Linked DNA regions of Homo sapiens. The protein of the gene in region 1 purifies or fractionates together with the protein of each later gene. This does not show direct contact. Each region holds a gene or a part of one and is shown in the gene's direction. Other genes may lie near its edges. The genes, in order: KDM4B, PARP14, SMU1, RTF2 and ARHGAP18.

Evidence for each region.
Region 2: the proteins of KDM4B (region 1) and PARP14 purify together in Homo sapiens (affinity purification with mass spectrometry; one large-scale study listed by BioGRID and IntAct). This does not show direct contact.
Region 3: the proteins of KDM4B (region 1) and SMU1 fractionate together in Homo sapiens (co-fractionation; one large-scale study listed by BioGRID). This does not show direct contact.
Region 4: the proteins of KDM4B (region 1) and RTF2 purify together in Homo sapiens (affinity purification with mass spectrometry; one large-scale study listed by BioGRID and IntAct). This does not show direct contact.
Region 5: the proteins of KDM4B (region 1) and ARHGAP18 purify together in Homo sapiens (affinity purification with mass spectrometry; one large-scale study listed by BioGRID and IntAct). This does not show direct contact.

Annotation. Positions count from the first base shown.
Region 1 is NC_000019.10:5,132,125-5,137,834, forward strand, and holds part of KDM4B (lysine-specific demethylase 4B), read left to right. Parts: intron 1-1,758; coding exon 1,759-1,937; intron 1,938-3,214; coding exon 3,215-3,437; intron 3,438-5,137; coding exon 5,138-5,214; intron 5,215-5,496; coding exon 5,497-5,552; intron 5,553-5,710. UniProt on the Homo sapiens protein: Histone demethylase that specifically demethylates 'Lys-9' of histone H3, thereby playing a role in histone code. Does not demethylate histone H3 'Lys-4', H3 'Lys-27', H3 'Lys-36' nor H4 'Lys-20'.
Region 2 is NC_000003.12:122,710,966-122,716,675, forward strand, and holds part of PARP14 (protein mono-ADP-ribosyltransferase PARP14), read left to right. Parts: intron 1-2,299; coding exon of another isoform or gene 2,300-2,310; exon of another isoform or gene 2,311-2,458; coding exon 2,459-2,608; intron 2,609-2,906; coding exon 2,907-2,969; intron 2,970-3,296; coding exon 3,297-3,464; intron 3,465-5,710. UniProt on the Homo sapiens protein: ADP-ribosyltransferase that mediates mono-ADP-ribosylation of glutamate residues on target proteins. In contrast to PARP1 and PARP2, it is not able to mediate poly-ADP-ribosylation.
Region 3 is NC_000009.12:33,069,043-33,074,752, reverse strand, and holds part of SMU1 (WD40 repeat-containing protein SMU1), read left to right. Parts: intron 1-946; coding exon 947-1,157; intron 1,158-2,860; coding exon 2,861-3,013; intron 3,014-5,710. UniProt on the Homo sapiens protein: Involved in pre-mRNA splicing as a component of the spliceosome. Regulates alternative splicing of the HSPG2 pre-mRNA. Required for normal accumulation of IK.
Region 4 is NC_000020.11:56,470,064-56,475,773, forward strand, and holds part of RTF2 (replication termination factor 2), read left to right. Parts: intron 1-562; exon of another isoform or gene 563-878; intron 879-1,550; exon of another isoform or gene 1,551-1,606; intron 1,607-2,262; coding exon of another isoform or gene 2,263-2,352; intron 2,353-3,237; coding exon 3,238-3,332; intron 3,333-4,614; coding exon 4,615-4,708; intron 4,709-5,579; exon of another isoform or gene 5,580-5,682; intron 5,683-5,710. UniProt on the Homo sapiens protein: Replication termination factor which is a component of the elongating replisome. Required for ATR pathway signaling upon DNA damage and has a positive activity during DNA replication.
Region 5 is NC_000006.12:129,698,733-129,704,442, reverse strand, and holds part of ARHGAP18 (rho GTPase-activating protein 18), read left to right. Parts: intron 1-5,710. UniProt on the Homo sapiens protein: Rho GTPase activating protein that suppresses F-actin polymerization by inhibiting Rho. Rho GTPase activating proteins act by converting Rho-type GTPases to an inactive GDP-bound state.

The DNA of each region.
Region 1 (5,710 bases):
TGAACCCAGGCCTTTCTGTGGCTCTGCCGTAGCGACAGGCTGTCACTGGGGCAGGTGGTCGTGCGGGGAGGCAGCTGCTGTTAGAGATGCTCGGCTCTGCTCTGCTGGCTGGGCTGCCCATGATGGGCGGTTCAGGGCTGGGGAGCTTGTACCTCCCCATGGAAGATTCCTCCCAGGGCTGAGCACAGGCCTCTCCAGGACTTGGAGAGGTTGGAACAAAAGGCTCCCGCGAAGCTTTGAGTGGGAGGGGAGGAGATGGAATCTTCGATTTAACCCTCAGCCGAGAGCTGCTGTCTTGTGTGCAGAAGTCCTGCTAAGCCAGTTTTTCAACTTCTGCTTCGGCCTTTCATTGGGGATGCATGTAGAATCTGAAAATGGTCTGGATGGCGTCTTTCATCCTGCATGCAATTGGAGGGGTGGGGAGAGGAGGGTTCTAGAAGCGCGTGGGATCACAGGGCGGGAGCTCCCAGGAGTGGAGGAATCGGCACGGGGACAGAGGAATGACCAGGGGCCCCCGCGGGCTGGCTTGGGAAGGGGTCTTGCCTTCTACCCAGGTATCCTTCCAGAAGGCATCTCTGGGGCCTCCGTGGACTCCCCCACTCCCCACACCCCACTGTGACCCTTTGGTGAGACCGGAGCATTTGCCTGTGAGACCATCACGGCCCCAGAACCCCAGGCATTCTGGGGTTGTGAGTGACAGACGCAGCCAGTGGCTCTGTTCTCATCCCCAGGGCCTCGGGGCCGCTTAGGGCCTTCCCTGGGCTCCGCTGGCGGTACTGTCTGGTTTGGGTTTTCAGAGGAGTCTTGGCCTAAGGGCTTCCTGAGTCCACCATGGGAGACCTGGGCCTCCACCTCGGGGAGCCTGCCCTGCCCTGCCCTGCCCTCCTCTAGGTGAACCAGGGGCAGTGCCACAGCTGGGCTGATCCCAGGACCCCAGGCTCCCCTTTAGGTTGGGCTGAGGATTGGGCCACAGGAGTGGGCACCCCACTTCCTGGGGACAGCACCCCTGTGTCCACAGGAGATGCAGGGAGGGGACGTGGGGAGATTGGGGTGCGGCAGCTGGCAATGGAGGCCATTAGAGTTCAATGGGAACAGGCAACAGGTGGGAGAGAGACCGCCGCGGCTTCTCAGCAGCAGACCTGCCTTCCGGGAGAGTGTCCCCGTCACGCAGCTCTTCCTGGGGCGGGCTGCCTTGGCTTCCTAGCCCTGGTCACGGCCCCTCCTGACTCCCTGTCGCACTCCTCTGGCACCTCCCTTGAGTTCAGTGAGTCTGTGCCCACCTAAGACAGGAAGGACAGTGTCTCTGAGTCTCGGCTGGTCACTGCCGACGCCCCCACTCAGACTCAGACCCCAGGACGGGTGTAGGGCAGCCGGGGCAGGGCTGGGCACTGAGTTTGGCCAGTCCTTGGCCCAGAAGGCCCTGGGTGAGTGGACGGCTCTGGATGTCCAGGGAGAACCAGGTGTTGGGGGAGGGGCTCAGAGGAACCATGTTTGGGGGCTCTGGCCTCAGGTGGCAGTCAGCCGAGACAGACGTGTCCCCCTCCTGTTGATGGGATGGGACGCTGCAGTGTCAGCTTGATGGGCATTGTGGAGAATGGGGCAGCCAGGAGGCAGGTGGAGGGGGAGCTATGGGCCAGGGACCCTGTGGGCAGCCAGGGCTGTAGACCCGGGGCCATCCCCTGGGCAGTTGGGGTGATTCCTTGGACGAGTTTTTAGGGGGCTCAAGTGTCTCTCTCCCTCTCCCCTCTGTTCTTCTAGAGGCATCCCCTTTCTCCGGGGAGGAAGATGTGAGTGACCCGGACGCCTTGAGGCCGCTGCTGTCTCTGCAGTGGAAGAACAGGGCGGCCAGCTTCCAGGCCGAGAGGAAGTTCAACGCAGCGGCTGCGCGCACGGAGCCCTACTGCGCCATCTGCACGCTCTTCTACCCCTACTGCCAGGTGGGCAGGCGGGCCTCACGGGTCCCAGAGAACCCCAGGCAGGGGCGGTGGGAGAGGGCGAGGGACCGGGCACCCCACACGCCTCCCTCTCTCACGCAGGGCAGGGTGTTGGCCAGCACCCCGAGTTGTGAGGGCTTGTTCCTGACAGCCGTAGGCAGAGCCTGGTCTCTGGGTTTTATTGGAATGAAGCTTACTAACGTGCCCATGTGCAACATGAGCCATGGTGGATGGGGCAGAGGGAGGCTGCGGAGGCTCGGGGTCACTGCCCTCAGGGAGCGCCCGTGTCTGGTGGGCGCTGAGATGGGCCGGGTGGTGTGGGAGTGCAGTGAAGGCCCAGGTACACCACCTGGGTGGCCGGGCGGGGCTCCCGCAAACCCTGGCCTGTCTAGCTGAGCTGGGCACCTGGCTAAGGTCCTGTTTCTGGTGCTCTTTCCATGCTGGCCTCGCCTGTCCTCTGCACCCAGATGGGGAGCTGGCCTCTGCCCACGGCCATCCCAGGCATCAGCACCCAGCCCAGCCGTTTTCCTCGGATCTCTTAGATCCCCCCTTCTCTCTTCCCCTGGGCATGCAGCCTCCCCAGGACAGGACCTGGCCACATGCTTTGCACTCCCAGCTCCTAGCCCCATGCCAAGCATGTCCAGGCATCAGCAGAGCTGCCCTGGGTTGGGGACGTCACCCCCCAGGCCTGTGCGCCGGCCGGGTCTGGGTGGACAGAGCCAGGGAGAGTGCTGTGCCGAGGGTGGTGAGCCTGTCTTGGGGCTCTGCTGCTGGGAGCTGGATTTAGTGCTCTGGTTCCTGAGACAAACAAGACCTGACAGCCGACACCGTCTCCAGGCACTTGCTGTCCTTTGTGAGGCCAGAGAGGCTGCTGGGAGCCACAGGGCCTGGAATGCCACTTCAGACATGCGTCTTCCTAATTCCCCTTGCCAGGCAGAGTGTGGAGACTCGTTCATCACACACCACCCCCAGCATACCCCAGCGCCAGGGGCCACCCAGCACCAGGGGCCACACAGGCCAGCCTGAGCTCTGTGTCTGGATGCAACCCTCATGGGAAGGTCTTCGGCGGGTTGGGGACAGGGTCAGACAGTGTTTGGGGATCCTGACTTTCTGGAGGAGTGAGAAGAGGGGCCGAGGTGGCTCTGGCCATCTCCCCGACCTCCCCCTCCAGAGCCAGGGGGTGTCGAAGCCTGGGGCAGGTGCCCTGAGAGAGGTCCGCGCCGCCCGCCCGCCTGCCCCACACATGGCTCTGTCCCCTGAAGGTCGCCTCTCCCCTACAGGCCCTACAGACTGAGAAGGAGGCACCCATAGCCTCCCTCGGAGAGGGCTGCCCGGCCACATTACCCTCCAAAAGCCGTCAGAAGACCCGACCGCTCATCCCTGAGATGTGCTTCACCTCTGGCGGTGAGAACACGGAGCCGCTGCCTGCCAACTCCTACATCGGCGACGACGGGACCAGCCCCCTGATCGCCTGCGGCAAGTGCTGCCTGCAGGTCCATGCCAGTGAGTGCCACTGTGGGGCCCAGAGGAGCTGCGCCCTCCTTCAGGGTGTTGGTGGGGGTGCCGGTGGGGGCTCCATCCTCCCCTGCGGAGGGCCACACCGGCCCCTCTCCCCAGGCTGCACTTTCAGGGCCAGGGCAGGGGCCTCCCCCGGTGACTTCCTGCAATTTCTGACTTTCTCATCCTTCCCGTTGTGGTCCCACCATCTAGAGCAGGGGGAAAGGCTGTGGCCATGGAAGGGCTGGATGACCGCATGCCACCCTGGGGCAGGACAGGGCCTCCACCGCCCCCAGCATCCAGAAGATGCCAGTGCAGGCCCAGGTGCTGGCCTCTGGTGCCAGCCTCTGCGGAGGAAGCCTCTGCTCCAAGGGGCACTGGGCTCATCCCACCCTGTCCCTGACACCCAGAAGCTCACCCTAGGGCCAGAGCAAGAAATGGGCCAGGCACCCCGTCTCTCCGCAGGCTGTGTTCCCTGAGAATGGCTGTCTCTGCCAAGCAGCCTTTGGGGGCAAACATCCCTGCCCTTGACCTTGGCCCAGGCAGGGTTCCTCCTCACTGGCCCTCTGGACAGTTCTGCCGAGTCTTCTCCAAGGCCTGGGAGGCGACAGGAGGAACTCAGGCAGCCGCTACGCCTGTGATTTGTGGCTGTGGTTGAAACTGATGGTCACAGTGAGATTGCAGCGTGGTCAGGGCGTCTGATTTATCTCTGCTCTCAGGGACCCCTCCCCAGTCCTGAGGCTCGACCATGGTCACAGACAAGAAAATGGATGTCTGTCTCTTTCCCACGCACGGGGGGGCGGTGGCAGGAATTGGACTTTCAGGGAAGGAGGAGGGCTCTCTGGAGACGTTTAATTTTCTGTGCCCCTGGCAGCCATAGATCTGTGTCGGTTTCCTCCTGGCGGTGGCCTGCCTGGGGGCTCGCGTTGTCTCCTGGCTGGGAGGCTCTTCACTCTGCTTTGCTGGGCCTGGGTTTGAGATGTGCCCCCGGGGCAGATGGGCTCCCTGGGGGAAGGGTTGCCGAGGGTCCCAGGCCTGCCACAGCCGGGCCGCCCCAGCCAGGCTACCCCAGCAGACGCCCCCACCCCCAGCCGTGCCCACCACCCTGCTGCTCTGGAGGCAGTGAGGTCCCCGCCCCCAGCCTCTTCAGTGGGCCATCAGCACTGGCAGAGAGCCCCTTCCACACTGGGGGCAGTGATCCCCAGCAGAGGCAGAGCCCTGGGGGGCAGGCGGCACCCCTGCCCTCGCTCTGGGGGCATGATTCGGCCTTTTGTGCCCTTTCCCCATTTCCAGACCCAGGGCCACATCCCACAGTGAGTCTCCCTTGCGGCTTTGGCCTTTCTGGACATAGCAGGAGGAGCTGCTGTTGGGGGTGCAGACACCCAACAAGGAGGGGCCCTCAAGACACCACCAGGCTGAGCGCGGCAGACCCAGCTGGAGCTCAGGGTCCCTGCTTCCCCTCCTGCGTCCTCTTTCCACACAAGTAGCTTCCAGACCTTTCTCTCGCTCCACATGCAGTGGCCTGGATTGAAGCTCAGAGGGTGGGAACAGCACGCACCCTGAATGCTGCAGCTGCGTGCGGAGGCCTCGTCACTCCACATACGGACACTGGCCCCCAAGTTACCCGGCCCCTCCCCCTGAGTTTCACTCGGCTCCCCAAGTCTCACCTGCCCCCCAGATCTCAGCCAGCCCCCGCTGTCTTCCAGGTTGCTATGGCATCCGTCCCGAGCTGGTCAATGAAGGCTGGACGTGTTCCCGGTGCGCGGCCCACGCCTGGACTGCGGTAACTCGCTCCCCGCAGCGGGGGTGGTGCTCTGAGAGGCCTGGGCCCCGGCCCCACTCCAGTGGGGTGACTTTGGGGCGTAGTCTCCCCTCCGTGGGCCTGGGTTCCTTCACCTCTGCCCTGAGGGGGTGGAACCCAAGGGATTCCCACCCGTCACTTTGGTGGCTGCTAGGTTGAAATATAAGGGCCGTGGGCTGGGGACGGTTGGCAGATCAGGCCCCAAGCAGTGTGTGGGGAGCCTGCTCCGAGCCCTGCTCATCCAGGGCTGTCTGGTCTCCACAGGAGTGCTGCCTGTGCAACCTGCGAGGAGGTGCGCTGCAGATGACCACCGATAGGAGGTGGGTGGCACCGCGCGTTGGGGCTGGAGGGCCGGAGGGGAGCCTGCCCTGGGCTGAGGCTCTGCAGGGTGTGACCCCAGTGCCTAGGGGTTGACCATCACCTCCACATAACCGCCCTGTGTCATGGATGGGGTGGCCAGGGCTGAGGAGGAGCATAC
Region 2 (5,710 bases), on another chromosome or scaffold:
TATCAGAACTAGGAGCTTTTTGGATGAGTCGTTAGGATTTTCTAGTATACAATCATATTATCTGCAAACAGCAACAGTTTGACTTCCTCTTTTCCAGTTTGGATGGCCTTTATTTCTTTGTCTTGCCTGATTGCTCTGGCAAGGACTTCCAGTACTATGTTGAATAGAAGTGGTAAAAGTGGGCATCCTTGTCTTGTTCCAGTTCCCAGGGGTATGCTGTCAACTTTCCCCCATTCAATATGATGTTGGCTGTGGATTTGTCACATATGGCTTTTACTACTTCAAGATATGTCCCCTCTATGCCTATTTTGTTGAGGGTTTTTATAATAAAGTGGTGCTGGATTTTATCAGATGCTTTTTCTGCATCTATTGAGATGATTATATGATTTTTGTTTTTAATTCAGTTTATGTGATGTATCATATTTATTGACTTTTATATGTTAAACCATCCCTGCATCCCTGGGATAAAGTACGCTTGTTCATAATGTATTATCTTTTTGAAGTGCTGTTGGATTTTGTTAGCTCATATTTTGTCAAAGATTTTTGCATCTGTGTTCATCAGGGATATTGGTCTGTAGTTTTTTTTTGTTGTATCCTTTCTTGGATTTATTATTAGTTTAATACTAGCTTTTAGACTGATTTAGGGAGGATTTCTTCTTTCTCTATCTTTTGGAATAGTTTCAGTAGGATTGGTACCAATTCTTTGAATGTCTGGTAGAATTCAGCTGTGAATCCACCTGGTCTGGGACTTTTTTGTTGTTGGCAATTTTTTTTAATTACTAGTTCAGTCTTGCTGCTTGTTATTGGTCTGTTCAAGGTTTCTGTTTCTTTCTGATTTAACCTAGGAGGGTTGTATGTTTCCAGGAATTTATCCATTTCCTCTAGAGTTTCTAGTTTGTGCATGTAAAGGTGTTCATAGCAGCCTTGAATGATCTTTTGTATTTCTGAGGCATTGATTGTAATGTCTCCAGTTTCATTTCTAATTGAGCTTATTTGGATCTTCTCTCTTCTTTTCTTGGTTAATCTCACTAATGGTCTATGAATTTTCTTTATCTTTTCAAAGAACCAGCTTTTTGTTTCATTTTTATCTTTTTTTGTTTGTTTGTTTGAGGTCTTTTTAAAATAGTTTCTATTTCTCTGCAGAGACATCCTATTTTTCCATTCATTCCACATCATTTCCATCCATTCAAATGTGTTTACTTTGACCTCATGGATCATAGTTATAGTAGATGCTTTAAAGTCTTCTATAATTCACATCTTTTTGGGATTCACATCTTTTTTTTTTTTTTTCTTTTTTCTATGGAGTCTTGCTCTGTTGCCCAGTCTGGAGTGCAGTGGTGCAATCTTGGCTCACTGCAACCTCCGCCTCCCGGGTTCAAGTGATTTCCTTGCTCAGCCTCCCAAATAGCTGGGATTACAGGCCTGTGCCACCACGCCCAGCTAAGTTTTGTATTTTTCTTTTAGCAGAGAGAAGGTTTTACCATGTTGGACAGGCTTGTCTTGAACTCCTGACCTCAAGTGATCCACCTGCCTCGGCCTCCCAAAGTGCTGGAATTACAGGCATGAGCCACCATGCCTGGCCAGGATTGACATCTTTTTTTTTTTGAGACAGAGTCTCACTCTGTCACTCAAGCTGGAGTGCAGTGGCACAATCTCAACTCACTGCAGCCTCAACCTCTGGGGGCTCAGGTGATCCTCCTACCTCAGCCTCCCAAGTAGCTGGGACTACAGTTGTGCACCACCATCCCAGCTAATATTTGTATTATTTGTAGAGATGGGGTTTCACCATGTTGTTCAGGCTGATCTCGAACTCCTGGACTCAAGTGATCCACCCACCTCGGCCTCCCAAAGTGCTGGGATTGCAGACATGAGCCATTGTGTCTGGCTGGATTGACAGCTTTTGATTTTCTTTATCCTTAAGGGTTGATCAAATTTTCCTGGTTCTTTATATAACAAGCAATTTTGGAATACAGACTTGACATTTTAAATATTATGTTGTGAGACTAGGGCCACCCTTGGGTCAAAGCTGGGAGAGAAAAGAGGAAAAATTTTAAAACAGAACAAAATGGAAAACTGCCCCACTTAGCAGATTGCTTCTGCAAGTTTTGGCACCTTTCTTCAATCTGTCTGCTGTTATTGTAACTTTTCAGAGCTCTTGGGTGGTGGCTTTTTGTATTTGTCCTGTTTTTAGTTGTAATCAACGGGAGAGATAGGCTATAGTACGCTAACTTCACCTTGGTCAGCACCAGAGTTCATGTTTGATATGGATTCTATGTTCTAATTCTTTTTTCTTAAACAGATCATCACTGAGGCTGAGGAGCAGGGCCAGGTTAAAGACCAGAGGTCACAGAAAGAGAGGGAGAGGGAAGACATCCAAGAGGGTCCCATGTGAGCAGGATACCCAAGTCATTCTTGCTGTGGCTGACTCGGTTATTGACTTTACTTCTTTTCTTTTCAGGTTTTTATGGGACTGTTTCTAGCCCTGATTCAGGTGTGTATGAAATGAAGATTGGCTCCATCATCTTCCAGGTGGCTTCTGGAGATATCACGAAAGAAGAGGCAGATGTGATTGTAAATTCAACATCAAACTCATTCAATCTCAAAGCAGGTACTTGTACAATTTTGATGAGTGCAATAGTTAATGGTAGATGCTATGAAGGAGGGTTTCTATAGCCAAACTGGTTTTTAGAACTTTGGCTTGTTAATTAATAACTTTTAAATTATGCTGACAGGGTTTTCCATAATTAATAATGTTTATTTTATGAAGTTTTCTTCTTTGTCATCAGCAATACCCAATTAGAGGATTCCTCAGATGATGGAGAATGCATTCAGATAATCCTTCTGATCCAAATATACCATAGTGGTTTTTTACTCATGTTTGTTATCATCTTGATTTTCTCATGTAGGGGTCTCCAAAGCAATTTTAGAATGTGCTGGACAAAATGTAGAAAGGGAATGTTCTCAGCAAGGTAAGGCATATTCTATTTTTTGGTCCTAAGTTGTAATTGTATGGGAGGCTGTGGAGAGGCTGAGAAAAGTCTTAGGGTTGGGGAGACAACACTCTAATTTTAAAATGATACATTTTACTAAAGAATTCCAATCACAGACACTTAGAAGTGAAAAGTAATCTCACAGTTAAAAGTAAAGTTAAGTCATAGCATTCCATCAAAGATAGTATTTCAGGAGTTTTTTTTTTTTCACAAAATGCTTACTTGCCAAGTTATACATTTTGCTTTCTAAACAAATGACGGGTTCAACTTCTACTAATTTTGCATCTTTTTGTCTGTGTTTCCCAGCTCAGCAGCGCAAAAATGATTATATAATCACCGGAGGTGGATTTTTGAGGTGCAAGAATATCATTCATGTAATTGGTGGAAATGATGTCAAGAGTTCAGTTTCCTCTGTTTTGCAGGAGTGTGAAAAAAAAAATTACTCATCCATTTGCCTCCCAGCCATTGGGACAGGTTCGTAGCCTCTGGCTGTCAAGGCTAAATCCCAAGCCATCTACTTTCCCTTTCATTTGGAGCTGAGTGTGAATGCGGTCAGTGCTGAGTCTGACCCAGGGCAGCAACCATTAAGCTAGGAGTGGACAGCTTCCTCCCCATAAGACAACTCCCAAGGGAATGACAAAGCCTGTGGATTGTTTGAGTAAAAGAGGGACAAAATGCAGGAGACTGAAGAGAGTGTTAGAATGTTAGAGAGGCAGAAAGAAGGGAAGGGAAAATAAGGAGGAGAAGAGAAGGGAGAGAGTGGAAAGGCCATCCCTCATTCTCTTTCCTCAGTTACTTTCCCTTTTTCCATTCCCTACATATTCTCCATTATGCAGTCCTTAGCTTCCTCCTCTTTCCCCTCTCCATGGAGAATATTAGTACAACAACTTCCACCTCACTCTAGCTGATTCCCAGAGGAATATTACCAGGCTTCAGCTCAACAGTCAGCTGTGTCACTTGGCCTCAGGGCATTTCTGTGTAGAAGCTTCTCAGTCACCAGAACCTAGTGGGTCAGAAACTCAACTCTCCACTTTCCTCTTTTCAGCCTACTTGCTTCTTTGATTTTCTTCTTTTCCTAAAACTAGGTAATGATAGCGTGATTTTTCATATATAAGGATGGCGCTCTGGATTTATCATTAATTAGGTGGTTTTTTTTTTTTAATTATACTGGGGTACATGGGCAGAATGTGCAGTTTTGTTGCACAGGTGTTCTTTGAGCTCTTTAGGAATCCCTGCTTGGTCTCCTTCAGAGAGCTGGTCAGGGGAGGCATGCATTCTTAGGCTTGAAGTCAACGGAGCTGCCTTGTTCCAGTGCGAGAATAGTCAGCATCGGATCTGTCATTCTGTTGCTCGGGAATCTAAGTTTGAATCTCTTATGCTGGCATTCTAGGCTTTCCAAAAGGTTATCCTCAATAAACTTAACCATCCTTGTCAATTTCTGGGCCTTCTTCTAACCCTCTGACCCATATCTGTAATTCTGTACCATTTCTTATAATGTTCCGAGATGGAATTCTATGTCTATTTTACAACTTTTCTATTTCTAAAAGTATAATTTTTGATCCCTTTGTTTTCATTCCCCTTAGAGTATCATCTATTCCTAGCAGATTAGCCAACATTTCTCCTATCTCTCTCTACCAGTCATCTATCTATCTATCTATCTATCTATCTATCTATCTATCTATCTATCTATCTATCTATCGATCTGTCTATCTATCTCTATCATCTCTCTACTGACTTATCTTTTATGGACACCCACCAATGACTCCTCAGTCTCTGTCTCCATCTGTTTTTTTCTCTGAGCTCTAGTCTTGGGTTTCCACCTTCAGTTGATTTGGGCCAAGAAAGCAAGCAGCTTAGGGGTGCCACAGACCTTCCCAAAGGAGTCCCTGGTAGAGTCAAAAGAAGAAACAAAGAAAGAAGGTAGGTTTCGTTTTGTATAAATATGTACACATTTGAGCATTTCTGGACTCAATTCTGGACTCAACAACAAATCCTGTTGTTTCTTCCACTGACCTGGTTGCATTGCTGGTCAGCACAAATAAATCAGGGTTAGTGGGTTATCCTTGCATGTCCTCTTTACCTATCTTTATCACCACCTGAGCTGGTTCTGAGACTGATAGATGTAGAAGCTTTCTCTTTTAGTGGTGTATATGAGTTGAATTAAGACTGTGATCAAGACAGCCTCTGGCAGTTAAAGGAGCCTCCTCTCTGTTCCTTAAAGACACCTGCATAAGAGGAGAGATTAGGTGGTTAGCAATACCTGTGATCACCTCAAGCTCAACGCAGACTCCAAACTCTCATTCCTTGTCATCTCCCCAAACCTGCCCTTCCTCTTATATCCCCAATCACGTGAAAAACATCACTTTCCATCTAGAGTCCTTGACTCTACCCTCTTCGTCACTCCGATCTTCATTAGCTTAGGAATTATTTGATTGAATATTTACTGAGTGCCTGCATCTGCAAGGCACCATGTTTAGGCTCTGGAGATAGAAAGATAACTAAGAAAAGGATCCAGTTCACAAGGAGCACTGAGCCCAGTGTGAGAGACAGGCATGCAAACAAACAACTGCAATGCAACGTGAACCATGATATAGTGAAGGTATGTGTATGGCAAAAGACAGAGAGGGAAAGGTGAAGGACAAACCCAGCTGGTCCCTAGGTACTCCTGACTTTACTTCCAAAATAGCTCCTCAATCCCTATTCTTCATTCTGGCCTCCTC
Region 3 (5,710 bases), on another chromosome or scaffold:
CAGGAATACATGCTCTAGAGCCACACTGCCAGTTTGAGTCCTGATTTTTCCACTTATTATCTCTATTATCTGATCAAATCCTCATCTGTAAATTGGGGATAAAAGTAAACTTACCTCATAGGTTTTATTTTATTTATTTTTTTGAGACAAGGTCTTGCTCTCTTTCCCAGGCTAGAGTGCAGTGGCATGATCACGGCTCACTGCAGCCTCAACCTTATGGATACAAGCAATCCTCCCACCCCAGCTTCCCAGGTAGCTGGGACCACAAGCACACACTATCATGCCTAGCTAATTTTTTTTTTTGTGTGTGTGTGTGTGTAGAGAAGGGGTCTTCTTATGTTGCCCATGCTGGTCTTGAACTCATGGGCTCAAGGGATCCTCCCACATCAACATCCCAAGTAGCTGGGACTACAGGCACATGCCACCATGTTTGGCTAATTTAAAAAAAAATTTGTAGAGATGGGGTCTCACAGCTGCCTGATCTGGTCTCAAACCTCCTGGTTTCCAGCCAATCCTCCTGCCTCAGCCTCCCAAATTACTGAGATTACAGTCATGAGCCAGCATGCCCAACCTCATTTAGATTATTTTGTATAAATAACTAGTCTAGTCATTTAAAGTATTTCAGTGAAGTGTGCTACAATATAATTACAAGAATGAATAGGAAACTAGGCTCTGGATTAGGAAATAAGATAGTCACCTTGACACCAACTCCCTTTCTAGCTGACTGAGACATTAGGCAAATGATTTCCTTTCCTTGAACCCCAGTTCTGTCTCTATGGTTAGGGGGGGTCCCCTTATAATTTAGATTCTGTGATTTTGGAAAATTTTACTCACATGATAAAGAAATAGTAGTGAAAGGAAGATGATTGAGTAGGAGCTTGATAGGCTTTATTTTTGACCTCTGGTGAGTGAGAATCCCTGAGCTGAACGATTTGTTTTCTTTCAGTGTGATCCGCCTTATTATGCAGTACTTGAAGGAGAACAGTTTACATCGGGCGTTAGCCACCTTGCAGGAGGAGACTACTGTGTCTCTGAATACTGTGGACAGCATTGAGAGTTTTGTGGCTGACATTAACAGTGGCCATTGGGATACTGTGTTGCAGGCTATACAGTCTCTGAAATTGCCAGACAAAACCCTCATTGACCTCTATGAACAGGTAAGAGTGGTGGTGATGCTGATCCCCATGGGTTGGTTCGTTGTGGGCCAGCTCCCCAACTAAAAAGCGTCAGTGAGCATTCCTTCAAGCACGGTAGGGCTGCATCAGCCCATACAACAATGGCAAGGCTTGACATTGTATTTTTTCTCCCTTCTTGGAAAATCCAGGATTTCCCAAATTAAAATTCTTTCCTTTTTTTGAGACTGGATCTTGTTCTGTTACCCACTCTGGAGTGCAGTGGCAAGATCACAGCTTGCTGCATCCTCCATTTCCAGGATCAATCCTTCCTCCTGCCTCAGCCTCCTGAGTAGCTAGGAACACAGGCACGCACCACCACGCCTGCCTAATTTTTGCATTTTTCTGTAGAGACAGGATCTCACCATAATACCCAGGGTGGTCTCAAACTCCTGGGCTCAAGCAGTTCGCCAGCCTTGACTTTCCAAAGGGCTGGGATTACAGGCACGAGAGAGCCTCAACTTTCTAATCACATAGTTAGTCTTTCTGATAACTAGCTCCTACCTATCCTGAGCCATTTCCTTTGCACAAACCCAGGTGTGATTCAAGGGGCCCAGGAGTAACAAAGATACCCCTATCACTGGTCAAATTCCAAGAAGCTCCAAGCCAAGAACCTAGGACAAAGATCAGACAAATTTGTGATTATAAAACAGCAGAGTAGACTTTCTGGAAATAAGATTGTAATTTGAAGTAAAAGTAGTGAAATTGGTTTTTGGTTTTTGTTTACGGGTTTTTTTTTTTGTTTTTTTTTTGAGACAGAGTCTCACTGTGTTACCCAGGCTGGAGTGCAGTGGTGCGATCTCTGCTCACTGCAACCTCCATCTCCGGGGTTCAAGCGATTCTCCTGCCTCAGCCTCCCGAGTAGCTGGGATTACAGGCGTGCATCACCACGCCCAGCTAAGTTTTGTGTTTAGTAGAGACGGGGTTTCACCACATTGGCCAGGCTGGTCTCCAACTCCTGACCTCAAGTGATCCACCTGCCTCAGCCTCCCAAATGCTGGGATTACAGGTGTGAGCTGCCGTGTCTGGGCAGTTTGTTTCTTTACAATCCGTATGAGTTCAATAATTCCCAAAGAAAATTTTGGTAACTGGAGAAAGGTTTCTCTGGAGCCCATGGGTATATTCCCATCTTTAGCTTTCTTTGGCATCTACATTCTGAGCAAGAAGCCTGAGAGGAGGGGAGATTGGTAGATAAAAATGAAGGATAGAGTTTGAAGGATTGAAATTATTATTTATTTATTTATTGAGACAGATCTCGCTCTGTCGCCCAGGCCAGAGTACAGTAGCATGAGCTTGGCTCACTGCACTCTCCGCCTCTCGGGTTCAAGCAATTCTCCTGCCTCAGCCTCCCAAGTAGCTGGAATTACAGGCATATACCACCACACCCAGCTAATTTTTTTTGTATTTTTAGTAGAGAGTCTGTTTCACCACGTTGGCCAGGCTGGTTTCGAACTGCTGACCTCAAGTGATCCGCCCATCTTGGCCTCCCACAGTGTTAGGATTATAGGCATGAGCCACCAAGCCCACCAAGTCCACCTGAAATTGCTAGTGAAAATGGAAAGGGGCACTTCCTGGTATTGGAAATCCTTTGACAGGCCATATCTGTGTTAGATATTTTACCGAAAAATATTAATAAGACGGTGTGTTGAAACATCTGGGGTTTTTTTTGTTTTTTTTTAATTGTCCAGGTTGTTCTGGAATTGATAGAGCTCCGTGAATTGGGTGCTGCCAGGTCACTTTTGAGACAGACTGATCCCATGATCATGTTAAAACAAACACAGCCAGAGCGATATATTCATCTGGAGAACCTTTTGGCCAGGTCTTACTTTGATCCTCGTGAGGTATGACTGTGGTAATGAAAAGGAACTTTTTGTTAACTTTGGAAATGAAATAACATGATCTTTTTTTTTTTTTTTTACCATTTTATTGTATACTCTTTGTGATTTTGATTTAATTTTTGAGAATGATGCTTCTCTGTTTATATATGTTGGCTGAAATTTGCGTATGTTAAAGAGAATAATTTTGTTCAGTTTTCTGATTATTTGAGTCTTCTATACACCTCAGTTTAGAGGATTGCGTGTTGGTTAGTAAAAAAAGCAGAACATTTTATTCTGATGTCATTTCCACATTAGCCCTCCCCGAAGTGCTGCCTGACTGCTGGTATGTTCACTGATCATTTGTGTGTCTTGCCCCTAACAATTGTAGTTTCCTTCTAGCCTTTTTAGTCCCTAGAAGCTTTTGTTTCTTCGCGGATTATGCTTACCAGTAGAGCATGATGATAGTCTTTTATTCTTCCAAAACGTTATTATCTGTATAGTTTCATTCTTCCTAAACCTTATTATCTGTATGGTTTCATTCTTCCTGCCCACCCCCCCAGCCTTTTACTAGAGGTTTGTCAAAATAGGAGGAAAAAGGATTAAAAAAAATTTTTTATGGGTACATAGTAGGTGTATATATTTATGGGGTACATGAGATATTTTGATATAGGCATGCAGTGCATAATGAGGGTAAATGGAGTATCCATCACCTCAAGCATGTATCCTTTGTGTTACAAACAATTCAATTCTTTCAGTTATTTTAAAATGTATAATTATTATTGGCTATAGTCACCCTGTTGTGCTATCAAATACTATTTCTTATTTATTCTTTATATTTTTTGTATCTATTAACCATCCCCACTTTCCTTCTTACCCCCGCCACCTCCACCCTTCCCAGCCTCTGACAACCATCCTTCTACTCTCTATCTCCATGTTTTAATTTTTAGTTCCTGCAAATAAATGAGAACATGCAAAGTCTGTCTTTCTGTGCCTGGCTTATTTCGCTTACCATAATGAGCTCTAGTTACATGCATGTTGTTGCAAATGACAGGATTTCATTCTTTTATATGTCCAGCTAGTACACCATTGTGTACATGTACCTCATTTTCTTTATTTATCTGTTAATGGTCACTTATCGTTGCTTCCAAATCTTGCCTATTGTGAACACTGCTGTAATAAACATGGGAGTGCAGATATCTCTTTGATATACTGATTTCCTTTTGGGTGTGTACCTAGCAGTGGGATTGCTGGATCATATGGTACCTCCATGTTTAATTTTTTGAGGAATCTCCAAACTATTCTCCATAGTGGTTGTACTAATTTACATTCCCACTAATAGTGTACGAGGGTTCCTTTTTCTCCACTTACTCACCAGCATTTGTTATTTCCTGTCTTTTTGTATAAAAGCCATTTTAACTGGAGTGAGATGATATCTCATTGTAGTTTGATTTGCATTTCTCTAATGATCAGTTGTGTTGAGCACCTTTAAATAAACCTGTTTGCCTTGTGTGTGTCTTTTTTTGAGAAATGTCTATTCAGATCTTTCACCCATTTTTAACATTGGATTATCAGATTTTTTTCCCGTAGAGTTGTTTGAGCTCCTTATATATTCTGGGTTTTGTTGTTGTTGTTGTTGTTGTTTTTGAGACAGAGCTCTGTTACCCAGGCTGGAGTGCAGTGGCGTGATCTCGGCTCACTGCAGCCTCCGCTTCCTGGGTCCAAGTAATTCTCGTGCCTCAGCCACCAAGTAGCTGGGATTACTGGTGTGTGCCACCACACTCAGCTAATTTTTGAGTTTTCAGTAGAGATGGGGTTTCGCCATGTTGGCCAGGTTGGTCTCGAAGTCCTGGCCTCAAGCAGTCCACCCGCCTCGGCCTCCCAAAGTGCTAGGATGACAGGCATGAGCCACCACACTTGGCCCTGTATTCTGGTTATTTATTTATTTGTTTATTTATTTTTCTGAGACAGAGTCTTGCTGTTGTCTCCCCGGCTGGAGTGCAATGGCACGATCTTAGCTCACTGCAACCTCCACCTCCCAGGTTCCAGGAATTCTCCTGCCTCAGCCTCCCGAGTAGCTGAGATTACAGGCACCCACCACTATGGCCTGGCTAGTTTTTCTATTTTTAGTAGCGACAGAGTTTCACCATGTTGGCCAGGCTGGTCACAAACTCCTGACCTCGGGTGATCTGCCAGCCTCAGCCCCCGAAAATGTTGGGATTACAGGCGTGAGCCACCCTGCCCAGCCATATTCTGGTTATTAATCCCTTGTCAGATGGGTAGTTTGCAAGTATTTTCTCAGGAGGAAGAAGAACTTAATAGGCACTGGATAATAGAATGTTAGAGTAAACCTACAAAATCTATGAGGATAAAGGAAAGGATTTTAGATTACCAGGACAGGATTTAACTTAGAGGTGGTGAAGCACTTCTGTGCTGGGAGCCATTTAAGAAATTACTAAAGAGTATAAAAGAATTCTTGGTTCTGCAAATTTTTCAAAAACTGGAAGAACAACTCTGGGTTTAATGTGGTTTACTTGGACTCTTTTCAGAAAAATAGCAGTGTGTCCTTTGGCCAGGAACTCAGTGAAAAAATAATAATAGTGTGGATTGGCTGACCTCAGTTTTCTCCCAACTCATACTTTTGAAATGCAAGCGGGCAGAATTGGGAAGTCATTTTCAAAAACTAAATTAGTTCAACTAATCCCTTCTTTAACTGGGTAATTT
Region 4 (5,710 bases), on another chromosome or scaffold:
TGTAACCCCTACCATGTGTCAGCCACATAATAGACACCTAATAAGTATGTGTGAATATGGGAATGAATGAATACCCAAGAGGATGAAGTGTACCCTCTGATCATACGTACATGTAAACAGGCGAATGCTGGATAATTAGCATTCATGAGTGGTTTTTTGGCTTTCACCAAAAAAGTGTTTAGCTCAGTTTTGTTTTCTTGTGCCCAGGGCTGAAAAGGAGTAGCTTAATGAAAGGCTTGACAAGAAACAGGTGTCGGAAGAGGGTAGAAAAGAAGGAAGAGCGATTCAAAAAAGCCAGAATGCCTAGGCAGGATGGATTTTTATTATAACTATTCACACAACAAATGCTTAATAAGTGGTTACCATATATACATTGTTGTAGGCCCCAGGGATATAGCAGTGAACAAGGCAGAGTCTAGCCCTGGTGGAGCTTACATTTCGGATCAATATTGTGAAATCTGCCCTGGTTCCTAACGCAGAGCACCTAAATTCCTTGTAATTTCCTGGGTGACGGGATCATCTTTTGTTCTAATAAGGCAATTATTGGTGGGCTCCTGGATGGGGCCTGGTCACCAGAAACACCAAGCCAAGATTAGAAGCCTGGAACTTTCAGCCCCACCTCACCCCCATCCTTCAGGGAGGAGAAGAGGAATTGGACATGGAGTTAATAATCCATCATGCCTACGTGGTGGGGTCTCCATAAAGATCCCTGAAGTTGAGGGTTTGGAGATTTTCTGGGTTGCCGACAACATCCACATGCCAGGAGAGTTACCCCAACTCCATGAGGACAGCCCTGCACTTGGGACCCTTCCAGATTACTTCTTTATCTGGCTATTTATTTGTATCCTTTAAAATGTATTTGTAATAAATCAGCAATGGTAACTAAACTCTTTCCCCATATCTGTGAGACACTAGCAAATCATCAAACTGGGCGGGGGGATCGTGGTAGCCTTTGATTTATAGACAGTCAGAAGTGCAGGTGACAACTTGAACTTGTGATTGGCATCTAAAGTCGGGGTAGGGACAGTATTATGGGACTGAGCCCTTAACCTTTGGGATCTGAGGCCATATCCAAATAGGTGGTATCAGAATTGAGTTTAATTGTAAGACACCTGGCTGCTATCAGAGAATTGGTTGGTGTGGGGAAAATCCCATACATTTTGTCCGAAGTGTTCTGGAAGTATTGAGTGTTGTGAGTGAAAGTATAGAAAAAACACTTGTCTGGCCAGGCGCGGTGGCTCACGCCTGTAATCCCAGCACTTTGGGAGGCTGAAGCAGGCGGATCATGAGGTCAGGAGATCGAGACCATCCTGGCTAACACAGTGAAACCCTGTCTCCACTAAAAATACAAAAAAGTTGCCGGGCATGGTGGCAGGTGCCTGTAGTCCCAGCTACTCGGGAGGCTGAGGCAGGAGAATGGCGTGAACCCAGGAGGCAGAGCTTGCAGTGAGCCAAGATAGCGCCACTGCACTCCAGCCTGGGCGACAGAGCAAGACTCCGTCTCAAAAAAAAACAAAACAAAACAAAACCACTTGTACTTGTCTTTCCAGTACAGATATGTAAAAACTTAAAAGAAGAAAGACCCTAGGAAAGAAGAGAGACCCTGGTAAACACATTTTTTACTGCTTTTTCGGGGGAAACAATTTTCAAAGCCCTGGATAAGGAGTGATTTGTCACTTTTCTCCCTGTCCCCAACTCTCTGAGGTGCTTTTTGAATATAACCTAATCTCTTGGTGCCTCACTTTCCTCATCTTCAAAAGTAAAAATACTAACTCATAGAGTTTTTCTGAGGATTAAAAAGTTATGGAAACTGCTTAGCACAGTGCCTGGCACACAGTAAGCACTTAAGCAGTTTTTACTTTAAAAATTAAATTCAGAGGGCCAGGTGTGTTGGCTTACGCCTGTAAACTCAGCCCTTTGGGAGATCGAGGCAGGAGAATCACTTGAGCTCAGCAGTTGGAGAACAGCCTGGGCAACACAGGGAGACCTCTTAACAAAAATAAAATAAAATTAGCTGGGAATTGGCGCTTGCTTGTAGTCCTAGCTACTTGGGAGGCTAAGGGGGAGGATTGCTTGAGCCCAGGAGAATTGAGGCTGCAGTGAGCTGTGATTGTGCCACTGCAGCCCAGTCTGGGCAACAGAGCAAGACCCTGTCTCAAAAAATAAATTAATAAAATAAATTCAGCAGGATTGTTTTTGTCTTCTTTTTTTCTTTTCTCTTCCTATTTTCTTCCAAATGTGCTGTCCTGTTAAATTATTCAGATTTGGCATTTGAAGAATGGGAAAGAGTGGTGCAGTCTACACAGTGAAGGAAAAAACAAGAACGGGAAGGAGTGGGACATGGAATATGATGTATGTGAAAATGTCATTCGAGGGCCAGGGAGGGTCTTATGTCTGGATTTTCATACTGGGGATAAAGTTTGATGTATCCCTTAGTGAATAAGCCCCAAAACACTTATTTCTGTTAAATTGAACATTTTATAAAGAATTATGTAGTCTTTGTTCTGAACTTTAAAAAAAAAATGCTTGTCTTCTCAGTTCTTAAGTCTTTAAATTCTGCCGCAACTTAGCAGGCTTTCCCATTGTTAGAAATTAATCTAACACACTTTTTTTTTTCTCTTTTGTATGGCCTCCCTAAGTTATTATTAAGATTCAGATGTTAATATTTGTATGTGGCTTGCATAAACAGTTTAATAATTTTATATAATCTTCTTTTTCTTTGTACATGTCATATTTAGATGGGCGTTTATTTGATGTAGTATTAATTACTTGTGACTTTTAAAATCCTGACTTCAGCCAGGCACAGTTGCTCATGCTTTCAATACCAGCAGTTTGGGTGGCTGAGATGGGCGGATCATTTGAGTCCAGGAGTTTGGGGGCAGCATGGCAAAACCACGTCTCTACAAAAAATACAAAAATTAGCCAGCCCTGGTGGTGTGCACCCATAGTCCCAGCTACTCCAGAGGCTGAGGTGGAAGGTTTGCTTCAGTCCAGGAGGTGGAGGTTGCAGTGAGTGAAGATTGCGCCACTACACTCCAGCCTGGGCAACAGAGTGAGACCCCGTCTCAAAAACAAACAAACAACAAACCAAAAACCCAACTTCCTATGTCATTATCTTTGATTTAAAAAACAAAAATCATTACAGTGCGGTATTACTGAATATACTTTTATATGTAGAATTGTGAACCATGTGTCTTTCAGAGTTGAAAATTAATTGAATTTTTTGTTTTTTATTAGGTCGACAAAGATGCTGAATTAGTGGCCCAATGGAACTATTGTACTCTAAGTCAGGAAATATTAAGACGACCAATAGTTGCCTGTGAACTTGGCAGGTATGGTTTTTACACTTAATCAAGATGAGTTTGTTAAGTGATTTTGAGAATTTTGATGTGTAAATGCAGTTTTCCATTCATCAAGCGTGGATTATCCCAAGCAAATTTGTGAGGCATAGGCTGTCGTTCCCTGTCTCTGAACATAGTTCTGTACTCTTCTAGTCAGTTTGGTTTATTTAATCCATGGTTTGAAAACTGAGGGGCTGGGCTGAGCGCAGTGGCTCACACCTGTAATCCCACCACTTTGGGAGGCTGAGGAGGAAGGGTCACTTAAGTCTAGGAGTTCAAGACCAGTCTGGGCAATGTGGTGAAACCCCACCTCTACAAAAAAATTAAATTAGCCAGGCACCTGGTGGCTGGCATGATCCTGTAGTCCCAGCTGTTCAGGAGGCTGAGGCAGGAGGATCCTGTGAGTCTGGGAGGTTGAAGCTGTAGTAAGCTATAATTCCACCACTGCACCCCAGCCTGTGCAAAAAAAATAGCAAACTCAGGGGCCAATAGAAGCTAAATTATAAGCATAAACACATGAAGGAGCCATGTGAGGAACAGGAGAGAATGGCAGGGAATGGAGAATACTGGAGGGTCCATGTGCTGTCCAAAGCGGGAGCTGCCACTCAGTTCCAGCCAGTTTTTACAGCTCAATGGTGTTGGCCTAGTGATTCCACACCTTCTGGTTTTAATTTTTTTAAAAAAAGAAGAAATACGTACTTATACGTTAAATTTCCCAATTAAAAAAAGCCTTGTTCAGGTTACATTCAGCCTTCTGACTGCCAGTTTGCCACCTTTGATTTAAACTAATTTCTGGCTGGACCCATTGGCTCATGCCTGTGATCCCAGCACTTTGGGAGGCTGAGGTGGGTGGATCACCTGAGGTCAGGAGTTTGAGACCAGCCTGGCCAATATGGTGAAACCCTGTCTCTACTAAAAATATGAAAATTAGCCAGGCATGGTGGCAGGCGCCTGTAATCCCAGCTGCTCGGGAGGCTGAGGCAGGAGAATTGCTTGAATCCGGGAGGCGGAGGTTGCAGTGAGCTGAGATTGCACCATTGCACTCCAGCCGGGGTGACAAGAGTGAAACTCTCTCTCAAATAAATAAATAAATAATTTCCTTCTTTGTATGCTCTGGAAATAGTTGAAACAGGGTTAAATTTACTTTTTAATAATTCAGGGTATTTCTCTTATCAAATGTAAACGACTTTTGGATTGTGTTCAGTTTATTCTTCCTTCTTTGGTTATTTGAAAGTCGCTTGTTGACATAATATTCTAATACTTACTATTGCAGACTTTATAACAAAGATGCCGTCATTGAATTTCTCTTGGACAAATCTGCAGAAAAGGCTCTTGGGAAGGCAGCATCTCACATTAAAAGCATTAAGGTAACACGAGTGATTCTGAAGTGCTGTGAGGGTCTGAACAGTGGCTGAGGTTTATTTTATAGAATTTATACGCCTTAAAGACTGAACTCAGAAATTTGGGATTCCATTCCCACATGGCCATCTAATACAGGTATGATCTTGAGAGGTCACTTAAATCTCAAGCCACGAGTTCCACCATGCATACTTCCTACATTATAAATCTGTTGTAATTTCACCTGTGTGTTGTGCTTTGAAAATTTTGATGTTCTCTATTAATGTTAGGAGGCATTATTTTTGTAATTAAGATTCACCTACTTGGATTTTGGATTTGGAAGATACTTTTGTGAATTAGATAATTTTATGGATCACTGTTAAATCACGTGGCTACCATCTGGTGATTAGAGGTTCTGATTGGCAGTTAAAGTTCTTTCATAAAAGTTGAAAAAACAAGTTTTTTTAATAAGGGAAATTTCTTGAGAGGACACAACTTTTTAAATATGGTCAGTGGGGAAAAAAACTTGGAAAGGTAATGAAGAATTTGAGAACCATCAGGCTAGTCAAACCCTTCATCTCACTGTAAATGACTCACTTGAGGCCCCATGGCTAGCGAAGTACTTAAACCAGAACCAGATCCCCTAACTCCCAGTCTAAGGCTCTAGGTTTTGCCTTCTTTTTCTTTCTTTCTTTCGTATTATTAGGCTTTTTGTTCAAATGCTTGGGGTTGATTATAGGATATGTTCATTTCAGGCAAATTCATAATTCTGAAATGTAGCTAATGATAGTGCTCTAGAAATTATTCTGATTTTAGTGGTCTTTTACCTTGTGGAAGAGAATTTATTCCTGAAAAACCTGTGGTAGTATGAATCATCTTACATCAAAAATGTGATAAACGATTCTTTAGTAGTTCATAATGCTATGATTGGGTTTCCATGTGCACATGTAAGATGTGCCTCTCTCAAGCCTTGTTGTGACATCAGCACATTACCCATCTGATGAGAAAAAAAAACAGTTATTGAAATTAAT
Region 5 (5,710 bases), on another chromosome or scaffold:
TACTGAGTCTCGCTGTGTCACCCAGGTTGGAGTGCAGTGGGGTCATCTTGGCACACTGCAGCCTCCACCTCCCAGGTTCAAGCGATTCTCATGCCTCAGGCTCCCCAGTAGCTGGGATTACAGGTGCCTGCTACCATGCCTGGCTAATTTTTGTATATTTAGTGAAGATGGGGTTTCACCATGTTGGCCAGGCTGGTCTTGAACTCCTGACCTCAAGTGATCCGCCTGCCTCGCCCTCCCAGAGTGCTAGGATTATAGGTGTGAGCCCTCACGCCTGGCCTGAAGCTCAGTTTTGAGAAATATCTTTTTGAGATAAACATTAAAGTAAGAACATGGCTGGCTGTCTTGATTAGTTCAGTGTTTTTACATGAATCTTCACAGGATTTTAAAAACCTATGTAGTATACCATTTAAAAAGTTTCTTCATTCTGAATTAGTGTATTATTACCTGATCATATATATATATTTTTTTGTTGTTGAAAAAAAGGGATGGTAATGAGTTTTTATAATGCAATTGTGTAATATTTAAATTTTATTTTTTCTAACCTTAGCTTCTAAAGCGTATTTCCTCATTCTAATTTCATAGAATTTAGTGACTAAATGGATTTAAACCTGTCCATGGGGATAATTGTTTTCCAGATCAATCTCTTCTTCAATTTCATGACATAAGAGTCCTTTGTAAAGGCATTTTCTTCACTGTGGTTTAAAAACCCTATCCATAGTTTCTTCTTGAATTATTAGAGGTTGCACCCGGTGTCCAACTGGGGAAGTCTTAGGTTCATTCACAGACATGTGATATTTGCCTTTTGATTCCTCTCATTGACGAGACCTGTGATTTTTGTGGGCCTATTAAAGTTATATTATCTTCATAGAACTTTTAATTAAGTTTATGCCTTTCGAATATAAGGATTTAGAGATTATCAGAACCATCCCCACCCACACCTTCCTAGAGAAACTTGTTGAACATTTGCTTTGTTGTCCACGGCACATTTATTACTTCTGCATTGTACGATTGCACTGTGCTGCCTTGTCTCTTCTAAGTGGGGCTTGCTTTCATATTTTATGAATTTTCTAATATTTTGAGTTCTGTTATTATTTATCATACTTCTACAAGTGTTGAAGCAATAAAGACTCGTAACAATTGATGCATTTAATGATGCACATGATTGCTACTGGACTGCATGGGTGTTAGGCTTAACTCGTTTTTGATAATTGGACTCATTGCCAGAACAAATTATCTGTTTCACTCTTCTGTTTTAATTCCCCACTGGCTGTAAACATCTGTCTCACAAATTAGAAAAAGAACCCAGCACCCTAGAGGCCAAGGCTGTCCCTGGCCACAGGGATAGTTCCCTCTACTCCTTGCTCATGAATCTGTGAGGTCCATGCCCTGTGGCTGTCTTCTTTCTCCTGCCTCTTTTTCTTCTTCTTTTTTTTTTTGTTTTGGAGATGGAGTCTCGCTCTGTCACCAGGCTGCAGTGCATGGCGCAATCTCGGCTCACTGCAATTTCTGTCTCCTGGGTTGAAGCAATTCTCCTGCCTTAGCTTCCCCAGTAGCTGGGATTACAGGCGTGCGCCACCACACCCGTCTAATTTTTGTGTTTTCAGTAGAGACGGGGTTTTGCCATGTTGGCCAGGCTGGTCTCGAACTCCTGACCTCAGGTGATCCACCCGCCTAGGCCTCCCAAAGTGCTGGGATTACAGGCGTGAGCCACTGTGCCTGGCCCTCCTGCCTCTTCTTGATTCTGTTCTGTCCAAGAGCCCTGAGAAAGCTCTGTCATCATCCTAGTGGTGTCACTGTGATGAGGCCTGTAGGCTGTGGGTCTCAGTGGGAGTCACTAACAGCATGGATCACTCTGTAGGTTTGGGGTTGCTAGACCAGGTATGACAACAATCCTCTCCTGAACCCTGCTGTAGGTGCCCTCTGTCCTGTGCCCACCCTTTCATTTCATACGAATATTTTGAGAGAGATGGTTTGTTCTAAATGTTTTATTCAGTTGATATTTAATGGGCTTTTCTATTTTCTTTCGATAAAAAAGGGATAGAGAATAAGAACTCTCATTATTTGAGGAGAGTGGGGATGAGTCAGGGTATTGGGCATGGATTAGGGCAGGAGGAACGGAAGGGATGTCTAGATCTTTCTGAAGGCACATTCTTTTGACTTCCATGTTTGTTGCTGTGAGCTGGCCAAGTTTATCCTTTTTTTTGCAAGAAATAAACAGAAACCATGGAGACCCGTGTGACCAGTTACTACCTGTAGTTTTTTTCCATACTTAAGTCCACTAAGTATCTGAATTTCTGTGTTGAAAGAGAGTATGAAACCTCATCTCCTTTTCATATGCATTTGGTAGTTGCCTTTTGGCTGCAAAGAACACTGAGGTTTCCTTATGGGAAATGAGGTTTGTTACAGGGATCTGGGTCATAGGGAAAGGAGGCATCTCTTCTTCCCTCAGCAGCTGGTCATATGGGGACACTCATGGCATTTCTGTTCTCTTGGAGACTCTCAATTCTTTTCTACCCACTGGCTTTCTAATCTCATCATTTCAGCTTGAGCTTTTGGCTCCTGATGGATGCCCAGCCTGGTTACCTCCTGAGTCATCTTACATTTCATAGCTAACTGACCCATCTCTTTATTTCCTAATTTCAGTTTTTTGTTTTTTGTTTTTTTTTATTTGAGATGGAATCTCGCTCTGTCACCCAGGCTGGAGTGCAGTGGCATGATCTCAGCCCACTGCAACCTCCACCTCCCAGGTTCAAGTGATTCTCCTGCCTCAGCCTCCTGAGTAGCTGAGATTACAGGCACCTGCCACTACGCCTGGCTAATTTTTGTATTTTTAGTAGAGATGGGGTTTCACCATGTTAGTCAGGCTGTTCTCGAACTCCTGACCTCACGATCTGCCCACCTCAGCCTCCCAAAGTGTGGGGATTATAGGCGTGAGCCACCGCGCCCGGCCTTAATTTCACATTTTTGAAAGGACATCAGATTTTTCCAGTTAATCTTTTTGAACAGGCCATAGTACAACCCCAGGCAGCTTATGATCTGGCTTGTTCTGGATCTTTTTAGAAAAGCAGGGTCTGTGGGTAGTGAGATTCCTGGACAAAGGATGTGGCATCTTTGCTAAGATATTTAGGACATGACACATTTATCTGTTTCCTCATTTATGAAATCATATCGTGTAATGATGCCCTTCCTGCTTCGCAAAGTTAATCATGAAGATCAAATGTGTAACGTTTGAGAATGTTAAAAAATTATGCAGATGAACATTATTACTAAATCCTTTTCTGTACAGTATCTTAAAATTTCCCCAGACATTTCACTTCATTTCACTTAACCAGAGTTGTCATAGTAAACTTTTGAGTTTAATTTGAATTTTACTTTTTTATTATATACTCAGATGTAAGTTCATTGAGGGTGAGAACTTTGCCTGTCTTTTTTTTTTTTTTAAGGGAGGGGTGTTCCTTTATACCTAAGCCTTGGCAAAGTGCTTAGTTCACTTTAGGTAGTTACTAAAAGATTGAATGAATGAATGAGTGTAAGTGGGAGGAGGCGTAGTGATTGCATACACAGATTTTGGAGCTAGATTGCCTGGGTTGAAGTCCTGCTTCTTTCATGTAGCAGCTTGTGACTCTGGGCTATTTAATGTTTCAGGGCCTCAATTTTTTTGTTTCCTTCTGCACACTGGGAATAATAATACCTAACTCAAGACTTATTTTAAGGATTGACTGAGTCAACATATGTAACATACTTACATGAGTGCTTGACATAAAGTACGTGTTTTCGATGATGATAAAGGGCAGTCAGACTGTTACCTGTTGGTGAATTAATTTGGAAATAGTATAGGAAAGCATTGTTGTGATTAATTTGTAAGTCATTTGGGAAATGAATGTTTGCTTCTAATGCATATGCAGTATAATGCCTTTATTTTAAAACTAATAGTGGGATAAGTTATATAAATAGCTCACATTATTTCAATACTACATTTAATATCCAAAAAGTACCCTAAAAAAGTGTTTAAAGGTATTGAACTCTTGTTAGGCCCAGGTGACTGTTTTGAATACCTTTAATGCTTCAGTTTGGGTAGCTATAAAGTTGCAGAGTGTTTGTTACTCTTAATAAGATGGAAAATCATCTAGTGTAGAGCAAGGAAAAGTTATTTGCACCTGTTCCTCAAAGAGCAAATTGACTTTAGGTTATCTCAATACTTGCAGGTAAAAGTACCAATGTATCATTATAGCTAAGTATTTGAGAAAAGAATAATTGTTATACATTTGTGCCCTTAAAATTTATTTATATAAAACAGCTGTTCTTGATTAGGCTGTTCTCATAACCAAGAAGTGATGTTTCATGGGGCAGAGTTCAGCTGAATGTATATCTGTGGCAGAGATCTGGGGGATGTGTTCCCTTCACCCAGTTCTTCTTAAGCTCTGTGCCCCATCTCCTTCCCATTTAGTACAAAAATTTGAAAACTGTACTGTTAGTCTTTCTCCTCATCTATAGAATACATAATAAACTTGCTTACATGCTCCAGGCTGTAGGCTAGGAAGCTATGTCCTCCTAGTCAGTTCTCCAGTTCCTCCCTACACTTGCATTTCAAGTTCTTATCAACACAGTAGTTCCTGCTTACAAAAGGCTCATAAAAGCAGGCTGCTTTGCTTCCACCTCTAAGAGACTGGGGACTTTTTTGGTGGGTGTGGACGTAACTAGCGAAAGGATGAAGTAGAGGGGAGGATAGAGCTGTATGCAATTAGAAATGCAGAAGCCATTTTTCCTAGGGGAGAAATAGCAAAAATGATATTTAAATTCCATGGAGATATTCATTCTATAATTCTACCATATTATGGATTAATTTCTTTTTACTAGCCAGAAAACTTAAAACAGCATTTATTTGTAGCACCATTGCTGTAGGAAAATGGATTCCAAGTTCCCAACTACAGGTTTGGAAATAAACTTTTCCAACCCAAATAAAATCTTCAACTAAGTTGGGGGTTTCTGTTGTTTCTTTGTTGCCTCTCCAGACTTTTGTGATCTGAGATGTAAAAGTTCTGATTTTTTTCTGCTTCTAGTTTTATCTTACTTTAGTACAATGTCCTTCCCCAGGCACCTGGGAGCTTTGTATACTCCAATAAATATGCCTTTGTCTCCTAAACATGTGCCTGTCTTCTATTAGGGATTATGTACTTGTCTACATTTGTCATTGATTTGGGAGTATTTAGGAAGGTGGAAAATGACATACATTCTTGTGACTTTAGATGAATCAGATTATAGCTGTATAATGTAATTAATTTAGTAAAGTAAGAAGTGCTTCGGCTGGGTGTGGTGGCTCATGCCTGTGAATCCCAGCACTTTGGGAGGCCGAGGTTGGTGGATTGCAAGGTCAGGAGTTCGAGACCAGCCTGGCCAATATGGTGAAACCCTATCTCTACTAAAAATACAAAAATTAGCCAGGCCTTAGGCCGGGCGTGTGGCTCATGCCTGTAATCCCAGCACTTTGGGATGCCAAGGTGGGTGGATCACCTGAGGTCAGTGATTCAAGACCAGCCTGGCCAACGTGGCGAAACCCCGTCTCTACTAAAAATAAAAAAATTAGTCTGGCATGGTGGTGCATGCCTGTAATCCCAGCTACTCGGGAGGCTGAGGCAGGAGAATTACTTGAACCCATTAGGCGGAGGTTGCAGTGAGCCGAGATTGCCATTGCACTCCAGCTTGGGTG